Linked DNA regions of Homo sapiens: region 1 is linked to region 2. The links come from fine-mapping of genetic effects on gene expression. Tissue or cell type: amygdala. Region 2 holds a variant in brackets; the other region holds the start of a gene. All regions are shown on one strand. Distances are between the middles of the regions. Region 1 holds the start of ITGAV (integrin subunit alpha V). Region 2 has its middle 23 kb from the start of ITGAV.

Region 1 (5,383 bases), 23 kb before region 2:
CTTTCCAAGCAATCCTCTCATCTCAGCCTCCCGCAGAGCGAGGATTACAGGTGTGCACCACCATGCCCGGTTAATTTTTGTATTTTTTTGTAGTGACAGGGTTTCACCATGTTGCCCAGGTTGGTCTCAAATTCCTGAGCTCAGACAATCTGCCCATCTTGGCCTCCCAAGGTGCTGGGATTACAGGTGTGAGCCACTGTGCCTGGCCTGAAGTATTTAAATGCTAATTTTTGACTGAAGACATATATTTTCAAAATCATTAGAATTTCTCTACAAATTATATCTCACATTGAACCCTTGGGAGCAACTAAAATGTTCTGTCTCATGAAGGTATACACTTGAAAGTATCTGGAAACAAAAATGTTTAAAGATAACGTTTGGTATTCACCCCTGTGGTTAAAAACAATAAATAAAAAGATAATGCTGACTAAAATGACTAAATGGAATGTGAAATTGGTAAATGTTGCCTAAATAATGATTATTTTTATCATGTTGGAAAATCTGTGCTCCAGGTCTCACAGAAAGCACTGTAACTGCTAACAACAAATAAAACTAAGCTTGCTACATAAAATAATGTCTCCACTAACAAAGTTTCCATTAACTGCATCTAATCTATGTATTGCTGCAAAGGTTGTTACCAAAATGAATGATACTCAGTAACATTCAGAAAAACACTAAGACTAAATTCTGCTGAGTGTCCTAACAGTCATAGAAAACCATTGAGACCACCCTCAAATTAGGCATGTGTGTAGTAGAAGATGGTCCTATCCACGTACTAACCGTCAAAATTTTCCTCCACTTCACCCCGAAGGGATATCTTATACAGAAAATATGGAAACAAAAATATGTTGTTACAAGGTCTAAGCGTTTAGAAGGCACCCTAAGAACAGTTTCTCTCTTGAAAACAAGATTTAAACATCATTAAAAAAACAGTCAACATTCATTAAAACAGTACTCCTAACGCTAACATGGGGGTGGGGTGGTGAGAATGATGTCAGCATTCAGTAAAGTCGGAGACAATTTCTAACACAATAATGGCAATAACTGTTATAAATCCTGACGGCCCTTGCAACGCGGAACGTTGGCAACTTGAAAACATAACTGAATTATTAAATACTGCAGTATTCAAATGACCTGCAGCGAGTGAAAACTCAGCAAACACCCTTGTTCCTTCTGAACAATGACCTAAATAGTGAATCACTATAAAAAGAACAGATGACACATTCAATTCATCTGTTCAACCTCAAATGTGCAAATGTCTGACAGTCCCAGAGATAAGACACAATGAATTCAATAGGACAGTATGGTCATTTTAAGTCATCAGAATGTCTGCAAAAGGAGTAAGGAGAAACAGAATCAGACAGAGGCGGAAAGAGTGGGGGAGGGCTTGTTTAGGGAGACTGAAAAGGACGGGCGTTAAGCCTGTAAAGCAGAAAAAGGCTACCAAGAAGCCTAACTGGTAGAGGAGAAAAAGAAGTTCGGGGATGATATTGACCAAATCCTCGACACTGGCACAGGAGGCGGGGAGTCCGGCAAGACCAGCCTTTGTTGATTTCCCACTTTCCCCGATTTTTAAGCACAGGTCTGCTTCAAAGCTCTCCCGCTGCCCCTAACCAATTTTAAGAGGTGAGAAGCGGGGTGTAACTGGGTGATGGGTACCAAAGGGAGTTCATTTCCCCAAATATTTCCTCCACCCAGGATATAAACCACTCTGAGAGGTAGGATGGGTGAGACAGACAGACGCCGGGATCTCTCGGAAATCAATCCCAATGGAGAAACGCTGGGTGGGTGCGCGCGGTGGGGGAGGGGGCCGGCTCCAGTTCCAAGTGCGGCCACTTACGAAGACGCGCTGGGCACGAAGAAATCCACGGCGAAGCCGAAGTAACTTCCCTCGGGGCCAGAGTACTCGGCAGGACTGTCCACGTCTAGGTTGAAGGCGCGGCACAGAGGTAGCAGGAGTCCCGAGAGAAGAAGCGGGAGGCCGCGGGGACCGAGGCGCAGCCGTCGCCGCGGCGGAAAAGCCATCGCCGAAGTGCGCGCGGGACGCCAAGCCGGGAGCGGTAGCCACCTCCCCCCGCCCCAGCGAGGCGCCCAGTGCCCGCGGCCCGCCGCCTGCGCGCGCCCAAACTTGCCGGCCGCTCTCTTCTCGGCTAGCCCGGGACAGCTCCGGGGCAGGCAAGAGGGCTGAGCTTCGGAGCGACCGCCAGGGACGAGGGGCGCAGAGCGCGCGGGGCGGGGACAGCAGCGCAGACGGTCCTTTGCTTCCCTCCGGCTCCGCCGCTCCACGCAGCGTCTGAGGCTGGGGACTGCCGGGGTGAGCGCCGCACCTCAGGCCTGAGAGCCGCGGCGGCACTGGGAGGAGACCTGGAAGGAGGAGGAGCCGGCCCGGGAGGCTGCTGTGGAGCTGGAGGAGGAAGTGGGGGAGGAGAGGCGCCCTTCTACAGGGGAGAGCTCAGCGTACTTCCGTGAGTGCAGTCGCCGCCTGTCCCGAGACCTGGGCGTCTGTGCAGGGGCCCCCAGCTCCTGAGCCTGGGTCAGCGGCAGCGCTCCTGGACGAAGGCCTCAGGCTGAGCACCTGAGGAGGCGTGGGGGCGGGGGCGGGGAGATACGGTCCAGCGTCCCAATCTACCCGCGTCCACGGGAGTAGCAAGGGCACCCACGTTCCCTTGTCCCGCCGGGAACTTCCGTGCGACTGTTGTTTAAAAATGAGGAAAGCTTTTTATCAGTTTCTCGTGTTTCTGCTGCTTAGCCTGGCAGGCTCTCACGAACGAAACCCTGTTAATTAATGGTCGTTAATTACACTCCATTCCACAAACACTGAACTTAATTACGGATTTCCAGAAAGCCAGCATAGCCTCTTGCAAGTGAGGTATGTAAAGCTTAACTTAGTAGTCAAAGAAAGGATTCGCAGGGCAAAGAATTGGCAGTGATCGTTTTAAATCAAGTCAGAATAATCGAAGCCTTATTCCCAGTTTGTTAGCTGCGGTTGTATGATTTAGAAACACTGATTTGTTGATTTAGGATGTTTGGATAGACATAATTTCAGAGCTGGAAGAAGGACCGCACACCGGTGAAATAAGGCCCCGCGTGCTTGTTTGCCACTGGTGTGTTTCATCAAGCCTTGACAACACTGGACTGAGAGAGAGGGCCTTGAGGACAGGAACCTTGACCTTTTTCTTAGTGTTCTTATTTCTAGCACCTTGCCAAGCAGATAGTAGTCGATCAATAAAATGTCCAATCAGTGAATGAATAGCAGACGAAATGAGCAAAGTGCCCAGAGAAGTGACTCTTCCATATTTCAAGTGTTTCATGTGCTACAGAATCTGTTGAACAAGGTGAAGTTTAAGTGCATTGTGTGGACTTACAACTTACAAGTAAGTACTGGAACAGTAATTTCTGTTTTCCCAAAGTAACTATTAAAACTCAATCATAATATACATTAATAACTATCAAATAATCCTGTGAAAGGATATGTATATAAATGAAAGTGAAATGCCTAATTCGAATTTGTAATATTTATTGGACCAGGTCCAGGTGCTCATGCTGGCAATCTCAGCACTTTGGGAGACTGAGGCAGGAGGATTGCTTGAGACCGGGAGTTCCAGGGGAACATAGGGAGACCTCATCTCTACAAAAATTTAAAAATTAGCTGGGAGTGTGGTGCATGCCTGTAGTCCCAGCTATGCCGGAGGCTAAGGCAGGTAGATAGATCGCTTAGGCTCAGGAGTTCCAGGTTATGATAAGTCATGAGCCTGCCACTGCACTCCAGCCTGAGTGACAGAACAAGACCCTGTGTTTAAAAAAAAAAAAGGCCGGGCGAGGTGGCTCATGCCTGTAGTCCTAGCACTTTGGGAGGCTGAGGCCGGCAAATTGCCTGAGCTCGGGAGTTCGAGACCAGCCTGGGCAACACAGTGAAATCCCGTCTCTACTAAAATACAAAAAATTAGCCGGGCGTGGCGGCATGCGCCTGCAGTCCCAGCTACTCAGGAGGCTGAGGCAGGAGAATTGCTTGAACCCGGAAGGCGGAGGCTGCAGTAAGCTGAGATGGTGCCACTGCACTCCAGCCTGGGCCACAGAGTGAGACTCCATCTCAAAAAAAAAATGCATTAAATATTTCCATTTTTAAATTTGACTAAAAGATATGCAGCAAAACCTTTGGCATGTTTTACAAGGCATGGTCTAGCATCTGCCTGAAAGAAATTACTGATTGAGAGAAGAAATCCTACACAAATCCTTACACATAAATGCAAATACAGCTTATTTCTCACCTTCTTTCCTAATACACCAAAGAGGCTATTGATATGTATGCATAAACCCAAAGGGTCTTTTATATCTTAAAAACATGACAACCAGTCTACCTGGAAATCCATCCAGGTAAGGAAGACAGAAGAGTTTAAACTCTGGCTAGATCCAGTAAGTCTCCCACTCCTCAACTTCTGATCGCAGGACAGGGGTCCGACAGACCAAGGTGGAGTGAAGAAATGTGAGAGGACCAGGGAAAAGAAGAAGCCCACGAAATGACAACACATGTACACCCACCAAAACTTGGGTGAACAACACACCCCCAAATAGGGCTACAACTTACTGAAAGCACTTACTGTTGAGCCATTCTTTATGAGTTTATTTTGAATGAGCAGTCTTGAAAATCAAGGAATTTGTTTTTTTTAAAAAAGCAAATAGTCCAGGCACTGTGGCTCATGCCTGTAATCCCAGCATTTTGGGAGGCCGAGGTGGGTGGATCACCTGAGGTCAGGAGTTCAAGACCAGCCTGGCCAACACAGTGAAACCCCGTCTCTACTAAAAATACAAAAATTGGCCGGGCGCAGTGGCTCACTCACACCTGTAATCCCAGCACTTTGGGAGTCCAAAGTGGGTGGATCACGATGTCAGGAGTTCAAGACCAGCCTGGCCAAGATGGTGAAAGCCTATCTCTACTAAAAATACAAAAATTAGCTGGGTGCAGTGGCAGGCACCTGTAATCCCAGCTACTTGGGAGGCTGAGGCAGGAGAATCACTTGAACCTGGGAAGCAGAGGTTTCAGTGAGCCAAGATCGTGCCACTGCACTTCAGCCTGGATGACAGAATGAGACTCCATCTCAAAAAAGAAAAAACAGTAGCCAGGCATGGTGGTGTGTGCCTGTAATCTCAGCTACTCAGGAGACTGAGGCAGGAGAATTGCTTGAACCCGGAAGGCAGAGGCTACAGTGAGCCGAGATATTGTGGTATTGTGGGCCACTGTGCTCCAGCCTGGGTGACAGAGCGAGACTGTCTAACAACAAAAAAAAGCAAACATACATTTCAATTAGGAAACTATGAAGCAGACTAACCCAGTGGCTTTAGAAACTTGGGGTTATAAATGCAGGCATCTCTTTGTGTGACCATG
Region 2 (5,383 bases):
ATCAACCCATCACCTAGGTATTAAGCCCAGCATCCATTAGCTATTTTTCCTAATGCTCTCCCTCCCCCCACCCCACCCCCCGAGAGGCCCCAGTGTTTGTTGTTCCCTTCCTTGTGTCCATATGTTATCATTGCTTATCTCCCACATATAAGCAAGAACATGTGGTGTTTGGTTTTCTGTTCCTGAATTAGTTTGCTGAGGATAATGACTTCCAGCTCCATCCATGTTCCTGCAAAGACATGATCTTGTTCTTTTTTATGGCTGCATAGTATTCCAGGTGTATATGTACTATATTTTCTTTATCCAGTCTATCATTGATGGGCATTTGGGTTGATTTCATGTCACTGCAATTGTGAATAGTGCTGCAATGAACATACACATGCATGTATCTTTGTAATAGAATGATTTCTATTCCTTTGGTTATATACCCAGTAATGGGACTGTTGAGTCAAATGGTATTTCCGGTTCTAGATCTCTGAGGAATCACCACACCATCTTCCACAATGATTGAACTAATTTACACTCCCACCAGCAGTGTGTAAGTGTTCCCATTTCTCCACAACCTTGCCAGCATCTATTATTTCTTGACTTTTAATAATCACCATTCTGACTGGCATGAGATAGTATCTCATTGTGGTTTTGATTTGCATTTCTCTAATCATCAGTGATGTTGAGCTTTGTTTCTGAAAACCCTAGAAGAAAATCTAGGAATGCCGTTCAGGACATAAGAATGGGCAAAGATTTCATGATGAAATCACCCAAAGCAATTGCAACAAAAGCAAACATTGACAAATGGGATCTAATTAAACTAAAGAGCTTCTGCACAGCAAAAGAAACTATCATCAGAATGAACAGGCAACCTACAGAGTGGGAGAAAATTTTTGTAATCTATCCATCTCACAAAGTTCTAATATCCAGAATCTACAAGGAACTTAAACAAATTTTCAAGAAAAAAACAACCCCATTAAAAAGTGGGTAAACGACATGAACAGACACTTCTCAAAAGAAGACATTCATGTAATTTTTTTTCTCACATTTACTTAAATTTTTTTTTAATTTTCAATTTTCATGAGTACATAGTAAGTGTATATACTTATGTGATATGTGAGATATTTTGATATAGGCATACAATATGTAATAATCACATCAGGATAAATGGGGCATTTATCCCCTCAATCATCTATCATTTCCTTGTATTATAATCATTCCAATTATACTCTCCTTTAGTGATTTAAAAATGTACAATAAATTATTGTGGACTTTAGTCACTCTTTTGTGCTATCAAATACTAGACCTTATTAATTCTAACAATATTTTTGTACCCATTAACCATCCCCACTACCCCCACCATACACATTATCCTTCCCAGCCTCTGGTAACCATCAATCTATCTCCATGAGTTCAAATGTTTTAATTTTTAGCTCCCACAAATCAATGGAAACATGCAAAATTTGTCTTTCTGTGCCTGGATTCGTTCACTTAACATAATGTCCTCCAGTTCTATTCATGTTGCCGCAAATGACAGGATCTTATTCTTTATTATGGCTGAATAGTACTCCATTGTGTATGTGCCTCATTTTCTTTATCTGCTTATCTATTGATGGACACTTAGGTTGCTTCCAAATCTTGGCTATTGTGAATAGTGCTTCAATAAACGTGGGAGTGCAGATATCTCTTTAATATATTTGCTTTCTTCTGTGTATATAGGTAGTAGTGAAATTGCTGGATCATATGGTATTTTATTTTTAATTTTCTGAGGAACCTCCAAACTGTTCTCCGTAGTGGCTATGTTAATTTTCACCCCTACCAACAGTGTACGAGGGTTCCTTTTTCTCCACGACCTCATCAGCATTCGTTGTTACCTGTCTTTTGGATAAAAACCACTTTAACTGGGGTGAAATGATATCTCATTGTAGTTTTGTTTTTCATTTCTCTGATGATTAAAGATATTGAGCACCTTTTTATATACCTGTTTGCCATTTGTATGTCTTCTTTTGAGAAATGTCTATTTAGATGTTTTGTCTATTTTTAACAGAATTAATAGATTTTTTTCCCTATAGAGTTGTTTAATCTCCTTATATATTCTCGTTATTAATTCCTGGAACGATGAGTAGCTTGCAAATTTTTTTTCCTATTCTGTGTGTTTTCTCTTCACTTTATTCTTTCCTTTGCCGTGCAGAAGCTTTTCAACTTGATGTGATCCCACTTGCCCAATTGTGCTTTAGTTGCCTGTATTTGGGGAGTATTACTCAAAAAATCTTTGCCCAGACCAATGTCCTGGAGACTTTCCTCAATGTTTTCTTTTAGTGGCTTTATAGTTTGAGGTCTTAGATTTAAGTCTTTAGGCCGGGCACGGTGGCTCACGCCTGTAATCCCAGCACTTTGGGAGACCAAGGCAGGTGGATCATTTGTGGTCAGGAGTTTGAGACCAGCCTGGCCAACATGGTGAAACACCATCTCTACTAAAAATACAAAAAAAATTAGCCAGGCATGGTGGTGGGCACCTGTGATTCAGCTACTCTGGAGGCTGAGGCAGGAGAATCACTTGAACCCAGAGGTGGAAGTTTCAGTGAGCCGAGATCGCGCCACTGCACTCCACCCTGGGCGACAGAGAGAGACTCCATCTCAAAAAAAAAAAAAAGATTTAAATCGTTAATCCATTTTGATTTGATTTTTTATATGGTGAGAAATA[G/A]GGGTCTAGTTTAATTCTTCTGCATAAGGATATCCAGTTTTTCCAGCACCATTTATTGAAGAGACTGTCTTTTCCCCAATGTATGTTCTTGGTACCTTTGTTGAAAATGAGTTCAGTGTAGATGAATGGACTTATTTCTGGGTTCTTTTTTTTCTCTATCCTGTTGTATTGGTCTGTATGTCTGCTACTATGTCAGTATTATGCTGTTTGGGTTGCTATGTAATATAATTTGAAGCCAGGTAATGTGATTCCTCCAGTTTTTTTCCTTTTGCTCAGGATGGCTTTGGCTATTCTGGGTCTTTTGTGGTTCCATATAAATTTTAGAATGATTTTTTCTATTTTTATGAAGACTATCATTGGTAATTTGATAGGGATTGCACTGAATCTGTAGATTGTTTTAGGTAGTATGGACATTTTCATAATATTGATTCTTCCAATTCATGAATATGGAATATCTTTCCAATTTTTATGGGTCCTCTTCACGTCCATGTTTTATGGTTTTTATTGTAGAAATCTTTAACTTCTTTGGTTAAGTTTATTCTTAGGTATTTTATTTTATTTGTAGCTATTATAAATGAGATTATTTTCTTGATTTCTTTTTCAGAATGTTTGCTGTTGGCATATAGAAATGCTACTGATTTTTGTATGTTGATTTTGTGTCCTGCAACTTTCCTAAATTTGTTTATGAATTCTAATAGTTTTTGGTGGAGTCTTTAGGTTTTTCCAAATATTAAGATCATATCATCTACAAACAAGGATAATTTGACTTCTTGCTTTCCAATTTGGATGCCCTTTATATCTTTTTCTTGTCTGATTGTTCTAGTTAGGGCTTCCAGTGTTGAATAACAATGGTGACAGTAGGCACCCTTTTCTTGTTCCAGGTTTTAGAGGAAAAGCTTTTAATTTTTTCCCCAATTAGTATAATATTAGTTGTGGGTCTGTCATATATAGCTTTTATTGTGTTGAAGTATGTTCTTCTATAACCAGCTTTTTGAGGGTTTTTATCATGAAGAGATGCTGAATTTTATCAAATGCTTTTTCAGCATCAATTGAAATGATCATGTGATTTTTGTCCTTCATTCTGTTGATTTGATGCATCGCATTGATTGATTTGTATATGTTGAACCATCCTTGGATCCCTGGAATAATTCCCATTTGGTCATGATGAACGATCTTTTTTAATGTGTTGTTGAATTCAGTTTGCTAGTAGTTTGCTGAGGATTTTTGCATTAATGTTCATAAAGATATTGGCTTGTAGGTTTCCTTTTTTGGTTGTGTGTTTGGTTTTGGTATCATAGTAACAATGGCCTCATAAGTGAATTTGGAAATATTCCCTCCTCCTCTATATTTTTAGGATAGTTTGAGTAGTATTGGTATTAGTTCTTCTTTAAATGTTTGGTAAAATTCAGCAGTGAAGCCACTGGATCCTGGACTTTTCTTTGCTAGGAGACTTTTATTACAGCTTCAATCTCATTACTTGTTACCGTTTTGTTCAGATTTTGGATTTCTTCATGGTTCAATATTGGTAGGTTGTGTGTGTCTAGAAATTTATCCATTTCTTTTAGGTTTTCCATTTCATTGGCATATAGCTGTTCATAGTAGCTTCTAACGATTCTTTGAATTTCTGCGGTATTAGTTGTAGTATCTTCTTTTTCTTCTCTGAATGTATGTATTTGGGTCTTCTCTCTCTTTTTCTCAGTCTGGATAAAGGTTTGTCAACTTTGTTTATCTTTTCAAAAAACCAACTGTTCACTTCATCGACATTTTCCATTGTTTTCTTCATTTCAATTTCATTTATTTCTGCTCTGATCTTTATTTTTTTTTTCTTCTACTTTTAGGGTTTGGTTTGCTCTTGCATTTTTCATTCTTTAAGATGCATAGTGAGGTTGTTTATTTGACATTTTTCTACTTTTTTGATGTGGGTGCTTATAGCTATAAACTTTCCTCTTAGTACTGCTTTCACTGTATCCCATAGGTTTTTGTATACTCTATTAGCATTATCATTTTTTCAAGGAAAAAAAATTTGAGACAGGATCTTGCCCATGCTGGAATGCAGTGAGTGGCAAGATCATGGTTCACTGCAGTCTCACTCTCCTGAGCTCAAGTGATCCTCCCTCCCCAGCCTCCCAAGTAGCTGGGACTACAGGAACAAACCAGCATGCCCACCTAATTTATTTTATTTTAGTAGAGGTGAGGCCTCGGTATGTTGCCCAGCCTTCAAGAAATTTTTTAATTTCCTTCTTAATTTCTTCACTGACCCACTGATCATTTGGAAGCATATTGTTTAATTTCCATGTGTTTGTATAGTTTCCCAAATTAATATTGTTATGGACTTCTAGTTTTATTTCATTGTGGTATAAAATATTTGATATAATTTCACTTTTTAAAATTTTTTAAGGCTTGTTTTGTGACTTAAAGTATGGTCTATCCTTGAGGATGATCCATATGTTCAGGAGAAAAATGTGTATTCTGCAGCCATTGGATGAAATGTTCTGTAAATATCTATTAGGTCCATTTGGTCTATAGAGCAGATTAAGTCCAATGATTCTTTGTTGATTTTCTGTCTGGATGATCTGTCCAATGTTAAAGTGAGGTGTTGAGGTCTTCAGCTATTATTGTATGGGTGTCATCTCTCTCTTAAGCTCTAATAATATTTGCTTTATATATCTGGGTGCTCCAGTGTTGGGTGCA

Evidence for each region.
Region 1: ITGAV starts here. The variant in region 2 is fine-mapped to the expression of ITGAV in amygdala (GTEx, PIP 0.98).

The regions. Positions count from the first base shown.
Region 1 is chr2:186,586,981-186,592,363 of GRCh38, reverse strand. ITGAV (integrin subunit alpha V) reads right to left here and starts at 2,308. Exons shown (of 30, transcript NM_002210.5): 1 at 1,841-2,308. The coding sequence starts at 2,025. LOC124906105 (a long non-coding RNA gene) reads left to right here and starts at 2,468. Exons shown (of 2, transcript XR_007087465.1): 1 at 2,468-3,374. RefSeq lists an enhancer at 1,826-1,885 and a silencer at 2,016-2,245.
Region 2 is chr2:186,564,183-186,569,565 of GRCh38, reverse strand. No RefSeq gene overlaps it. Among named protein-coding and RNA genes, the nearest start is that of ITGAV, 23 kb to the left of the region's middle. The variant G/A (reference allele first, on the strand shown) is at 2,693.